Regions from separate parts of the Homo sapiens genome. Here region 2 is reported to be linked to region 1. Evidence: microRNA targets listed by miRTarBase, many of them from high-throughput screens and not tested one by one. Region 1 holds a microRNA gene; the other region holds the end of a gene's coding sequence.
What was found. Region 1 holds the annotated microRNA hsa-miR-1207-3p (UCAGCUGGCCCUCAUUUC, at 5,213-5,230, shown strand). A microRNA usually pairs through its seed, bases 2 to 8, with sites in the 3' UTR of a target mRNA and lowers its output. Matches are read on the target gene's strand: a 7mer-m8 pairs with bases 2 to 8, a 7mer-A1 pairs with bases 2 to 7 and ends in A, and an 8mer does both.

Region 1 (7,117 bases):
TAATTTTTTTATTATTATTTATTTATTTTTTTTTTTTTTTGTAGAGAAGGGGTCTCACTATGTTGCTCAGGCTGGTGTCAACCTCCTGGTCTCAAGTGATCCTGCTGCCCAGGCTCCCAAAGTGTTGAGACTACAGGTATGAGTCACCGCACCTAGCCCCAAACATCTTATTGGACAAGCCTTTCTTGGCCACTCTATGCAGACAGCACCCACCTCGCACCTCCATCTCCCCTTTTTTTTTCTATCTTAATTGATCACCATAGCACCTATCATCATCTGACCCAGCATATAGTTACTTGTTTATTTGTTTGTTGACAGTCTGACACCCCCAACCCCTCATGAACCCCAGGAATGCAGAGACTTCTGTTAATTTTATTAAGTGCTTTATTCCCTGGAAAATGGTAAGTGCCTACTAAATATTTGTTAAATGCATAAGTCTCTATTTTGGAGATGACCTCCACACCCAGCCTCAGGCACAGAGATGTAAAGTAACTTACTCAAAATCACCCAGCTACTGACAGGCAAATCTGGGCCCAGAGCCCATGCTCTAATCTAAATCATTACTACCTCCCTGCTGGTAACAAACAAAACCTCAGCACAGTGCCTGCAACACAGTAAGGACTCAGTAAATGTTAAATAAAGGTAATAATGCTTATAACAACCATCTTTGCCCCCAGAAAGATCCTTACCTTGAGGAGATAGCAAGGATTTGAGATGTTCAATATAAAATACCAAGTATGGTGCCTGTGCATAGTTGGCCATCAATGAGTGGTGGCTATTTACTATTATACTTGTTATTTTATTATACTTTAGCACATTGTGTTGTACTTAAATACCACTTGTTTGCCCTACTTATCTTTGTCCCTCCTGAGGGTGCGGAGTGAGCCTTATTCATTCCAGCATTCCTACAATCTTGTACATCCATACAATTCTTGATATGTAGTTGACATACACTACTGTAAGGTACATGAATGAGTAAGTAGATAAAGGAATGAACAAATGGACCAGTGGTTTGTTGGGGCCACTCTGGCCAGTGGTTTGGGGACATGCTTCCTGGAGTCTTATCCCCTCTTGTCAGATTCAGGTTTAGGACAACGGTACAGTTGTTCCATTGTTCCCAGATAACATATCCTATCTTAACGTCTTTGCTGGGGCAGCCCTTGGACACACCCTGAGCTCCTGCCCTATCACTGGCCCCACTTGTACCCCTTGTGGGCAGGCACCACGGCAGCCTGCTCTGAAGGGAGCTTTCATGTGGCCGACCAACTCTACTCCTTGACTCCTCCCTTCTCTCATTGAAAAAAAATGTTTAAGGGGACATTTCTCTCTCCTAAACTTTTTATGTTCCATTGAAGACCTGGAAAACATGTTAAATAAAAATGCTTTGCCACAGCTGACCTATGTCTTCTGGCTTGTACCCCACAACATCTTATCTAATGGGTAAGTCAGTTCTTATCTTTATTTCACTACTGAAGAAACTGATGCATAAGTGTTATATGCTTTTTAAGTTACGTAGTATTAGTGAAAGAGCCTAGGGCCAGAACCAGCTGTCTGCACGCAACCCAATGCTTTTTCCACAAGAGTTACCCACATGGCTGTATTTGTTGGTATTTTCTACCCTTACCTGCTTCCAGAAGACTTTGGAAGGGTGTGTTACAAAAGCAGTGATCCAGGGCAACTTTCAAGTCTGTTAGCTCCTTGTGACAACCGAGCTGCCCTGTAAGGCGTAATGAGGAGCGGCTTCATAATGAGCTGAAGTAGTTCTGCAGATGACACTGCTCAAGGATGGGGATGCTTTCCTCTCTGCCATGTTTTCCTTTCCTGTTGGATTTGACTCTTAGATCAGTTGTTCTAAGACTGGGTTGAAGCTTGGAATTGCCTAGAGGATTTTTTAAATCCTGCTGCTAGTACCCCAGCTGCAAAGATTTTGATTTTGTCTGAAATGGGACCTGGGCATTTGGATTTATAACATCTCCCCAGGTGATTCTATTATGCAGTGGAGTTTGAGGACCACAGTCTTAGAGCATCCCTGTTATAGGGATTCTGGGGACTAACAAGAAGCTACAGACCCCAAACTATTTCAGATGTAGTTCCAGCCCTCCTAAGCAAGTGTTAGCTCGAACCTTCTCACTCTTGCTCAGATTCATAGCTGCTCACCTTTCAGAAGAAATGACAATGCTGAAAGAGGAAACCAAGGGGACAAGAGAGATGGCAGCCATCCCAACAGCTGTCTTGTGTTGTGCCCCTACTGTGTGCCAGACACTGTCCTAAGCACTTTACTTATATTAACTCATCCAGCTCACAACCAACAAAATGGCCCTAAGAGGCCTCTGCTGATATCCCCGTTTTCCAAATGAGAAAACTGTCCACGGGGTCGGTCAGTAACTTGTTCAACCTGGGAATGGCAGAGCTGGGATCTGAAGTCCGGGAGCCTGGCTCCGTAGGCCTCTGTTTAAGCCACTGCATCTGTTGCCTTGTGGAATGTTCTTAGAACTGTAGGATACTGGTTCCCACATGGCCGAGAGTCTTCTCTCACTAGTTCGTGCTCCATGGTGATGGAGAAGCATAGTTCTAATCTGTCATTCTGTTGCTCTGGAGCCTACACAGCCCCCCATCGCATCTGGAGGGAGAAGCCCAGCTCCTTAGCACAGCACCTGAGAAATACCCTTTACAGTCTGGCCACTGGCTGAACATTCTTTCACTCTCCATGCCACACTGCTCTGTGAGTACCATCTGAAGGTCCTCTCCCTTTTCTCTGTCTTCTAAATGTTCACTCTTCAATATCTAACTCAAATATCCTCTTCTCTAACTTGTCCAGGAAGAATGAGTAAGGCCCTTTCCTTTGTTCCCCAGGCTCTTAGTTTCTCCATCTCTAATCACGTAGATTACAGCCCTTTCTTTGGTTTTCTCCAGGGGACCAAGGAGTGGGGCTCTGCCTTTCTCATGTCTGCTCTGCCTTCACGGTCCCCCACAGTGTCTTCAGTGGATGGCCAACCTCTCATGAACAGGATGTCCTCTTGTCTGAGGTTCTACTTTGTTCCAGCCATGGAGTCATACTCTCTTTATCTTTTGACTATCCAAAGGTGTTCTGTTGGACGACTGATGCCTTCCTCCAAGGTACTTTGGGCTCCCAAGTGTGCAGTTGACATTTGCTGTGCCTTCTCCACCAGGCTTTAGTTTTTGATGTATGCTGAGCTTCAGTGGAGATTTGCTAGCCTTGGGCTTTCTGTGTTCTTGAATCTCTCAGAGTCCAGAAGAAAAGGAAAGCTGACACTTTCTAGGAATGACCTGTGAGAAGAGAGGTTGGTGTCTTGCTGCTAAGTTCCGCTTGATTCTGAACTAAGTCACCATGGGCCAGAGGAGGCAGGGATAAGAGGAGTGGTTTCTTGGCCACCAGAATGGAAACGTTTTTGTTTTCTTGTGTGCTTTTGTGGAAATGGTGGCAGTTGCTCACTAAAGAGAACTAAAACCCTTTTACTAGAGCCCCACCAGGTCTGAAGAGGATGGGCGCGTGGGAGCCATTATCTTGTAAAGGACGCTATTGAGACCTTGCTACTGCTGCAGTGAAGAGCACAGGAAAAGCCAAGCTTAAAAAACACTGGGCGAATCCTAAGAACTTTTCATGCAGAAACACATGCATGATGAGAAGAGAATCTTCATTACAACATTGTTTGACACAGAAAAACGAGACTCAGCTTAAATGCTCATTAGTTAGTGATTGGTTGATTAAGTTGTGATAAAATGGAACACTAATACAGCTGTTTAAAAAATTAGTAAAAAAAAATCAGTATGTGAGATGATGCACCTGTTAATTAACTCAACTTAGCCATTCCACAATGTATACATCATTCAAAACTTCACATCATATATTATAAATATATACAATTTTTATTTGTGAATTAAAAATTAATCTAAAAAAATTAGTGGCTATATGAAGTAATTGGGAACAATCTTGAAGCTATATTAACTACCAAAGAGCAAAGTCAACCTTAACAATGCTGACTTTTTAAAGAATAGTGCCTAGAACACTGTGTGGAGTATGCTAACAGCTACACACTAATGCACAGCCACCAACCCCAGATCAGTTACGTGAACTTCTGCATTCACAAACACACTTAACACACTCTGTGGCTATTGCCTCTTTACTGACCTGTAAGTCAGTTCTAGAAGACAGACGATCCATGAAGGCAGGTCCTAGCCTGCCCATTTGCATTGGTATCTCCAAGGCCAAGCTAGAGAAGGCACACAATAGGCTTTCCACTAATATTTGTGAATGAATGAATGAACAGAGAGAGGAGTTTTCTTTCCACAGTTTCCTTCTACCTGCTACTCCTTGAGCATATGAGGCTGGAATCTAAGCCCTGAGGTCACTCACTGCTCTCCTGGGTACTATCCCTGGCCTCCCGTCCTTTTCCTTGAGCTTCTGTGCTCTGCAAGGCTTTCTCATTATCCTTTAGGCTACAGAGAAACAAGGAGACGGGAGAGCCTTGAAATGGACCTTCAAGATTACAATGTGTAGCTGACATTGTCAGTTAAGTTGGGCAGATCTGACTTCGCTGATTAAGTGGATGTATGAGCCGATCCTCCCCAGAAGCTGGGATCAGCTTCCCCATCTGATGGTGAGTCAGACCTGCTGGGGTTTGGGTCCTCGCTCCAGCATGGCTGCCTGTGTGACCTTGGCCACTTTACTTAACCTTGCTGAATCTCAATTTCCTGATCTGTAAAGGAAGCTAAAAATGCCTCTCTTGAGGTTGTAGTGAGGATTAAATGTGATAGCATAAGTGAAAGTGCCCTTTGAAGAAAGAGGAAGGCGAAAGCGCTTATTGTGTCAGGAGAAATGTGTGGAGAGCCCCCTGTTGTTCTCAGGTGTCTCATCCTTCCCAGGGAAAAATCCCCATGCCAAGTCAGAAGAGGTTATAATTTGGCTCTTACTCTTTTATTCAGGCACTTCTTTCGGCTGCCCAGGGTTTTCAGCTTAAGCAAATAAATTACCCTTCTCCACTGGACTCTGTGTTCTGCAGCCAGCCATATGTTTAAGCTTGATAGAGATTTTTATCTGGCTTGGTAATATTACCCAGCAAGGGATGACATTTCTTATCAGAGGCCCTGAGGAATCAGAGATAGGAGCCCTTTCTTTTTCCTGGCCGCCAGGCCTCCATGTGCAGGGCTGGCAGGGAGGCTGGGAGGGGCTGGCTGGGTCTGGTAGTGGGCATCAGCTGGCCCTCATTTCTTAAGACAGCACTTCTGTTAGCTGACCTACACAGAAGCAGGTCATTTCGAGATGTTTGCGTCTTGGAGCCACTGATAGAAGCAGGGCAAGGGAGAGTGAATGAGGAAGGAAGGCGGGAGTGTGATGACGCATGCCCAGCTTTGCGCGGAGGCAGAGCACTTGCCTGTGTGGGGCCCTGCCCTTCTCTTGAGAGGCAGGCGGGCCCTAGCTGCAGCGTCAAGGTCTGGGGATTCTGTGGCTCTGTAGGGTGAAGGGCACTGGAGACCTACCAGGGGCTGGGCCATTGGAGTGGTGGGTGCTGGGGAGCTTCCGTGGGCCCCTCCAGGTCCACTCCTTGCTCTTCTCTGCCTTGTTTTGTGCCCAGAAGGCTGACCTGTGTGGATGCATTATCAGGGTGGATGCAACACAGGGCTGCCATGCTCTCTGGTATCAGTTTGGAAGGCACTGGCAGGATGGGAAGGCAGGCGGGGAGTGAGGTCAGGGGGCCTATCCTTCCACTGCCTCCCTGCTGCTCCCTGACTGATTCAGGTAAGGTTTACACCGGGGCTCTAGGTTTGAATTTTGATTCTGGCATGTACTTGCTGTGTGATATTAGGCAAGTGGTGGAACCTCTCTGTGCGTCCGACTTCTCATCTATAGTAACGCTTTTGCATTCCATTGATCTCTTTGCCTCTCATTTGCCCTGAATGCTGAAGGAAAGGACACTGCTGTATCCCCTGAGGGACTGTCTGAGCCCAAAGTACACTGGGGACAAGGGCTTCAGGGTGGGCAAGGAGATGACCGATGATCACGTGATTTGGAACTATAGCCTCCATTGGAGACACGTGCTCTGGGCTCTTTCCCTCCTGAGTTTTGGGAAGTCCTGGCCTGTGCAGCCTAATTCTCAAGTACTAATCTTGCAATCATAAGAAGAGGAAGGAGAAGTGGTTTTCCCTCTCCCTGGACCCATTCCAGCCAGCAGTTCCTGACTTTGCTTCCTTCCTGTTGGTGCCCACTCTGTTTCCTTCCATCCCTTCCCCAACCTCTCCCATCCCATGCCTCATGTTGGGCAACTTGAGTTTAACTGTCTCTTCTTCCAGTGGCCAAGTCCAAATTCTGAAAGCACAGTTCTGACCATGTCCCTGTCCAACTCAAAAACAGTAGCTCCGTGTCACCCACAGGCTTGAAGTCAGACCTCTCAGGGGGCATTAAGTCCACCGCAACATCACTCCAGCCTGTGAATAAAGACTGAATGCCTCCGAGCCTCTTATGTGGGGAATCAGTTCTGGTAAACAGGTCTCACTTCTTGTCTTTTAAACACTACTTGCTTTCCTTGACGTCTGTGCTTTGATCCCATTGTTTTTTCTCCCTTGGATGCCTGAGAGATCCATGGGCTCTGGCTTCAGAGAGTGCTGGGTTCAGACCTCAGCTCCAACAGTTGCTGGCTCTGTGACCCTAGGAATGTCACCTCACCACTCCAAGCCTCTGTATCCTTGACATTAACCTGGGCTGATAGTTCCTACCTGCAGGGTTCTTGTGAGAAGAACCTGTCTAAAGGCTCCTACTGGGGCTTGACTTGTCAGATAAATGAATGGGGTTTTCCCTAACCTTCTAATTGACTACCCCACTGATTATTCAAACTCCACCTGTCCTCAAGTTCCATTCCATCATTCACTTCCTCTGTGGGTTTTTCTGCCACAAAGTCATCTTCCTCTGTTTGAAAGACTCTTAGTTCCTCATGTATGACAGCAAGAGTGGACCTCATCTCTTTCTTTTTGTGTCTGACTTCCCAGCACAGTCTCAATTTCTTCAGGGCATTGACTGTGGTGTAAGATTCTCAGCTTGAGCACTGGAACCATTTATGGGACGATTGAGTATTCAACTCCAAGAGAATGAAAGAGAGTCACT
Region 2 (7,117 bases), not on the chromosome of region 1:
CACTGCCCCCCCTCTCCCCCCGCCCAACCCCAGCTCCTCAGAACCCTGAGTCCAAACGTCTGCGGCTCTGGGGTATTCAGCCCTCACCTTTCTGACTCCTCTCCTGATCTTCTACAGGAGACTGACAAACTGGAAGATGAGAAATCTGGGCTGCAGCGAGAGATTGAGGAGCTGCAGAAGCAGAAGGAGCGCCTAGAGCTGGTGCTGGAAGCCCACCGACCCATCTGCAAAATCCCGGAAGGAGCCAAGGAGGGGGACACAGGCAGTACCAGTGGCACCAGCAGCCCACCAGCCCCCTGCCGCCCTGTACCTTGTATCTCCCTTTCCCCAGGGCCTGTGCTTGAACCTGAGGCACTGCACACCCCCACACTCATGACCACACCCTCCCTAACTCCTTTCACCCCCAGCCTGGTCTTCACCTACCCCAGCACTCCTGAGCCTTGTGCCTCAGCTCATCGCAAGAGTAGCAGCAGCAGCGGAGACCCATCCTCTGACCCCCTTGGCTCTCCAACCCTCCTCGCTTTGTGAGGCGCCTGAGCCCTACTCCCTGCAGATGCCACCCTAGCCAATGTCTCCTCCCCTTCCCCCACCGGTCCAGCTGGCCTGGACAGTATCCCACATCCAACTCCAGCAACTTCTTCTCCATCCCTCTAATGAGACTGACCATATTGTGCTTCACAGTAGAGCCAGCTTGGGGCCACCAAAGCTGCCCACTGTTTCTCTTGAGCTGGCCTCTCTAGCACAATTTGCACTAAATCAGAGACAAAATATTTCCCATTTGTGCCAGAGGAATCCTGGCAGCCCAGAGACTTTGTAGATCCTTAGAGGTCCTCTGGAGCCCTAACCCCTTCCAGATCACTGCCACACTCTCCATCACCCTCTTCCTGTGATCCACCCAACCCTATCTCCTGACAGAAGGTGCCACTTTACCCACCTAGAACACTAACTCACCAGCCCCACTGCCAGCAGCAGCAGGTGATTGGACCAGGCCATTCTGCCGCCCCCTCCTGAACCGCACAGCTCAGGAGGCGCCCTTGGCTTCTGTGATGAGCTGATCTGCGGATCTCAGCTTTGAGAAGCCTTCAGCTCCAGGGAATCCAAGCCTCCACAGCGAGGGCAGCTGCTATTTATTTTCCTAAAGAGAGTATTTTTATACAAACCTACCAAAATGGAATAAAAGGCTTGAAGCTGTGGCCTGAGTGCCTCACTGGACCCAGAGGCCAATGGGAGAGTATTTGGAGCCCTAGGTCCCAGCCTTAGCTCTACAGACTCACTGCATGACCTTGGACAAATTCTTTGATATTTTTGGACTTTGTCTTATCTGACAAGTGGGGCTACATCCGCTCGGCCTCATCTCCGGGACTGAGGGGAGACAGTCCTCTGGGGTAAAAGCGAAGAGGCTTACCGCCCCTCTCCCCGTGGGGGCCCACAGTGCTGCTGCGTGTGCCACGGAGGGGCGCTGTTATGCCCCCTTCCAGCCTCAGAGGAGGCGGCCGAGTGGTTCTAGGCCCCCAGCACCTGCTTCCTGCCCCATTGTCTTGGACAGGAAGGAGCCGGGAAGGGAGCTGGAGCCACTTCAGGGGCTGGATTAAGGCCGGTCCCGGCGCCCGATGGGGGAAGTCTGGTTTACCACTGCCCCGCATCCCACCCCAGGCTCGAAGTAATGGGGGAATCATTAGTTCTGCAGTCCTTCTGGATGGGAATTGTACCCTGTATCAGCACCCCACCCTCGCCCCAACCCCGGCGAGTACCAAACAGACGCTGCCCAGGCCGTGGGCTCCGCTTCCGTCCGGGTTTATTACCCCCAATCCAACCCCCAGCAAGTCCCTCCGCTCCAGCCTTCAGTCCCCCTGCTGCCCTGCCAGCAAGAGCGAGGGGCCCTTCTTGGTGTCAGGATTTCTTAGTCCATGCCAGCGGCCCCTCCTGCGCAGCCAGGACGGCGTCCAGGTCCCGAGGTCCACAGCGGTCCCGGGGCTCGGGGAGCAATCCGGGCGGGCGTCGGCGTGGAGGAAGCAGTGCCTTCAATCATCGGGGGAACAGGCCAGGGGCAACTGATCCGGACTGCCCACGCTGCCAGTGCTGGAGCTTCCATCGCCTAGGTCGCGGGGCCCGCACGGGGGCAAGGCAAGCTCGGGTGCTGGCCCGGCTCCTGATCCCCCGGCGCCGCTGGGGCCGCCGCGGGGGCCCCATTCTTCGCCCAGCGCCAGGCAGAGCTCCTTAAGCGCTAGGTTCTCCCGCAGCAGCTCCTCCTGGCGGCCCTCCAGCTCGGCCAGCTTCTGCCAACAGCCGCCCAGGTCCTCGCGCACGGCCCGGGATGCTTGGGTCCCGAAGAGCTGCCACTGGCGTGCGGCGCGCCGCCCGCGCTGGCGCTCCGAGTCCAGGAAGCAGCAGAGGTCGCGCAGCTCACGGTTCTCTGCCTGCAGACGCCGGTTGAGCTGCTTGAGCTCGCGGATCTCGCCCAGGTGGCCCTGCAGCTGCCGATTCACCTCCTGCATGAGGCGGCCGCGCTGCACCAGTGCCGCCAGGCGCGCCGCCTCCTCCCGCCGCAGGCGCCGCACTAGCTCTTCCTTGCCTAGCGCCGCCATCTCCTCGTCCGTCAGCTCCTCCAGGCCGCCTGCCTCGGCCTCCATGGCTGGTCAGGCCTCTGGAGCATCGCCCGCCCGCCGCCGCGGCCCAGGAGCCCCACGTCGGGCCCGGCGCCACTCAGGCTCGGGCTCCGGCTCCGCACGCGGCAGGCAGTGGCCGAGGCAGCGTAGGCTGCAGCAGCTACCCGGGCTGGGCACGCGGCGGGGCGCGCGCCGGGGCGGGGCCGCATGTCGTTATGGAAGGACAGCCAATCCGGTGAAACGTCCCCGGAAAGGGGCGGGGCCTGAGCTCAGGGGCCGCCCCCCTCGTTCCCCACCCACTCCGGGTGTTACTGATCCTCGATGTCAAGGAACCCGCGCGTCATCGCCCTCCACATCGGTCTCAACCCGAAACTAGGAGCTTCGAACCTCCAAGTACCGGATCGCCCCAAGCTTGAGCCTAGGCCTCTCGGCTCTTCTGAGAAACAAGATTCAGGCGTCCGCCCCTGACTCCTGCCCATCCCCCACAGAAGTCAGATGGACCGCTCTCCAGTCCCTCTTTACCTTTGATCAAATTCGGAAGTCTCGGCCCACTAAGGATCGCTCCTGGTTCCTCGGAACCCTGAGTCCAAACGTCCTAGCTCACCAATAGACTACCCTCCCTCCCAGGGAGCGTTTCCTGCCTGGGGGGAGGAACATACAGGATTCGTTTGTTCAATAAACGTTTTTTATGTGCAAGGCCCATGCAGAAATAAATTTAACCAAAATACCGATTCCATCCTCAAGGAGGTCGCAGTCTGTCCGGGAAGTCAAGCTGTGTTAAGCAAGAAATAAATCCGGGAGGAGTATGGTCTGAGGGTCCTTAAGAGGGTTCCCAAAAGAGATGCTATCCAAGAGGCTCTGGTAGATCCATAGGACTTTGCCAAGTAAAGAGCTATTTCAGGGAGAGAGAATAACATAGTGAAAGACACTGGTGCCCGAAAGAGCCTAGCTGCTTTAGGAACAATGAGGATAGCTTGGTTTTTGAAAAGCAGATGTGTCGAGAAAATGCTAAGAGAGAGAGAGCGAGGCTTCAAAGGTAGGTAAAAGCCAGATTCTTAAGAACTTCCAGTACCAGGTTGGAGCATTTCCAAAGGCCACTAAGGATGTTAAGCAAGAGAGTAACATTTGTAAGGATGTTAAGCAAGGGAGTAACATTTTAAAATATGCCTTTAACTGGCCAAGATGGTGAAACCCCGTTTCTACTAAAAATACAAAAATTAGCCGGGCGTGGTGGGAGGAGCCTGTAATCTCAGCTACTCGGGAGGCTGAGGCAGAGAACTGCTTGAACCCGGGAGGCGGAGGTTGCAGTGAGCCGAGATCGCGCCACTGCACTCCAGCCTGGGCGACAGAGCGAGACGCTGTCTCGAAAAAAAAAATGTATTTAAAAAGATTGGGCTGATCTGTGTGGGCCGGACCCTGCGGGGAGGGGACATAAACAGGGAGATTAGTAACGGTGTCAAAGAGCAAGAGCAAGGAGAGCTAAGCAGAAAGACGGCTGGGGCAGCATCAGTGGGGGTGGAGAGGACAAACAGATACTAGAAATATTCGGGAGGCAAATCAGCCGAACTGAATGTGGGGAGAGAGGAGTCTGGAAGAACGCCCAGGTTTCTCGTATGAGAACTGGTGGATGTTAGGGCTGTCACTGAGATAGGGACGCAGGAAAGAAACAAATGGGGAGAGGCAGAGGTCTGTCTAGAATATGTTGAGCTTTTGAGGGGCTTACGGGAAGAGTGTGGATAGACTTGGCCGATAGGCGGCCCCTCCGGATGTGGACTTCCAGGCAGAGCTCGGAGGGGCAGAATTAGAGACGTCAGTAGCTCGTGGGGCTGGGGGTGGGATTAAAACCAAGGTGGGAGCAGGTGCCCCAAACCCAGGAGAGGTGCTCATGCGCAGGATGGACAAACCAGTCTCCAGCAAGAGCCCGAGGAAGTCGGGTCATACCCCATTTTTGCGGAGATTTAGGATAGAGCCCTGTGAAACCCCTAAGTTTAGGATACAGGTCAAACTTAGGAGGTCCCGAAGAGGGCAGAGAAGGTGGGAGAAAAGCCAGGAGGAAGTGAGGGGAGAAGTTACGGGGACCGAGGAGACGAAGAGGAGGCACTCCCTTCGTGCTCCTGCAGACGGCCGGGGAGGGAGACAGGACGCAGGAGCCCGGGACTCCCCCTCCCGGCGGGAGGAAGCGGTGCTCCTCCGCGCAGGCCTCCCCCTCTCTTCCCTCGCCGCTCCCGCCCCGTCCCCTCCCCGACTGGCTGTGTCCCGGAAGTGGTCATAAGCTGGGTCCCGATGCCGCGAGCGGAATCTCGGCGCTCCCGGAAGTGGCCTGAAGGCGGCGCGCCAGTCCCGAGCAGTGCTCGCTCCTGCTCGGGGCGCTGCGGCCCCGGGCGTCGCCATGACCAGTGAGCTGGACATCTTCGTGGGGAACACGACCCTTATCGACGAGGACGTGTATCGCCTCTGGCTCGATGGTTACTCGGGTCCGTGAGGGGCGTGTGGGGAAGCCAGTCGGCGGAGCGGTTGTGTTGAATGGGAGAGGGGGCGGGGCTAAGACTTGGGCATCCTTTAGGGAAGTGGGCGAGCGCCTGGGAATAAGAGGTGTTATAGGGGTCTGGGATGGAAACCCTTAAGGGCCTCTGGCGTCGGCGGGGCGGGGCCTGATGCTAGCGTCCGCTTTCCAGTGACCGACGCGGTGGCCCTGCGGGTGCGCTCGGGAATCCTGGAGCAGACTGGCGCCACGGCAGCGGTGCTGCAGAGCGACACCATGGACCATTACCGCACCTTCCACATGCTCGAGCGGCTGCTGCATGCGCCGCCCAAGCTACTGCACCAGCTCATCTTCCAGATTCCGCCCTCCCGGCAGGCACTACTCATCGAGAGGTGCTCACCCTCTGGGATGGTGGAGACATCAACCAGTCTGACTGTATACCCATTTTGCCGGCTGAAACAGGCCCAGGGAGGGATGGGATTTACCCAGCCATCAGAAAGTTGAGAGTGGAAGGGGTCAGACCTAGGCCCTGCTAGGCCCCGCCAGACTCCCTTTCCTGTCTTTTATGGAGGGTCAATGGTGTTCTCTGACTCCACAAGGTACTATGCCTTTGATGAGGCCTTTGTTCGGGAGGTGCTGGGCAAGAAGCTGTCCAAAGGCACCAAGAAAGACCTGGATGACATCAGCACCAAAACAGGCATCACCCTCAAGAGCTGCCGGAGACAGGTATGCACTGCATCCACACGGACACAGCATCCCATCTACACTTCACTCCCTCCCTTTGGCCACTGGCCCAGTTCCAGCCTCTGATTGTGGCAGCAGCTTCATACCTAGTCTTCTCCTCCCTTCCCCTTTCCCCTCCTTTTTTTTTTTTTTTTTCGAGATGGAGTCTTGCTCTGTGGCCCAAGCTGGAGTGCAGTGGCGCGACCTCAGCTCACTGCAACCTCCGCCTCCTGGGTTCAGGTAATTCTTGTGCCTCAGCCTCTGCAGTAGCTGAGATTACAGGCGCCCGCTCCCACACCCAGCTAATTTTTGTATTGTTAGTAGAGACAGGGTTTCACCATGTTGGCCAGGCTTGTCTTGAACTCCTGGCCTCAAGTGATCATCCGCCTCGGCCTCCCAAAGTGCTGACATTACAGGCGTGAGCCACCGTGCCTGGCTCCCTGTTGTGCCTTCCAAGCTATCCTGTACTGTATGGCCAGAGTGACCTTTCAGAATGACCTGAAATTTTATCAGACCCCTGATAAACTTTCATTGGCTCCCACTGCCTCCTGGGTAGCAGCTGCACTCCTTGGCTTTGACCTATGGACTGTCCTGTTATCTCATCCCTGCAGACCTCTCTAGGCTTACATTTCTCCAGCCCCAGGCTTTCCTTTACTCATGTTGCTTCTACCTGGAGGGTACTGTTCTTGGCAATATCTACCCCTTGAAATCCAAGACAAGAGGTGAGATGCCACCTTCTCCACAAGCCTTTTTGGTACGCCAGGAAGAAGTAACCCTTCTGGGTCTTTGATGCCTTTCTTTTGTATCTCCTGTGAGCTTTCTGTTTATAGCTTAGCATTTGTTTTTTATTTTTTAGTTTCTAGGGCTTAGCCAGGAAAGTCTCTTCCAACTCAAACTTGTGAAGATCTGGAGAGCATGGTGCTAAAATGGGGTTGGATTTAGAGATAAGATTGAGTAAACATTTATCCAAGGCAAGATACAGCAGGAGTTGCTAAGCATTTGATTTGATAACAAGTACTAATAACTAATAGTTGGTTGAAGGAATAACAAATGCTAAATCAGCATCTGCTGACTGGATAGGTGGATGGGGAAGGGAGAGATGTTCAATAAGTGGTTTATTGGGTGAGCGACACAGTGTACACTCTGACCAGTCCTCTCTTCTACCCTAACTGCCCTGCAGTTTGACAACTTTAAACGGGTCTTCAAGGTGGTAGAGGAAATGCGGGGCTCCCTGGTGGACAATATTCAGCAACACTTCCTCCTCTCTGACCGGTTGGCCAGGTGAGGAGCTAGCCACCTCCCCATC

Region 2: the mRNA of FOSL1 is a reported target of hsa-miR-1207-3p. Seed matches in the 3' UTR shown: 7mer-m8 at 595-601.

What each region holds. Positions count from the first base shown.
Region 1 is chr8:128,043,991-128,051,107 of GRCh38, forward strand. It overlaps MIR1207 (microRNA 1207), which reads left to right and starts at 5,162; the gene lies at 5,162-5,248. The region is part of intron 6 of PVT1 (Pvt1 oncogene); the gene reads left to right. RefSeq lists enhancers at 731-2,202, 4,241-6,357, 4,877-5,422, cis regulatory regions at 1,221-1,722, 5,301-5,553 and a silencer at 4,505-4,688.
Region 2 is chr11:65,886,297-65,893,413 of GRCh38, reverse strand. FOSL1 (FOS like 1, AP-1 transcription factor subunit) reads left to right here. Exons shown (of 4, transcript NM_005438.5): 4 at 118-1,365. The coding sequence ends at 528. It overlaps FIBP (FGF1 intracellular binding protein), which reads left to right and starts at 4,943. Exons shown (of 10, transcript NM_004214.5): 1 at 4,943-5,080; 2 at 5,282-5,480; 3 at 5,688-5,814; 4 at 6,992-7,092. The coding sequence starts at 4,996. CCDC85B (coiled-coil domain containing 85B) reads right to left here and starts at 2,741. Exons shown (of 1, transcript NM_006848.3): 1 at 1,779-2,741. The coding sequence starts at 2,630. The coding sequence ends at 2,022. RefSeq lists enhancers at 1,081-1,240, 1,281-1,330, 4,973-5,042 and silencers at 2,471-2,950, 4,713-4,852.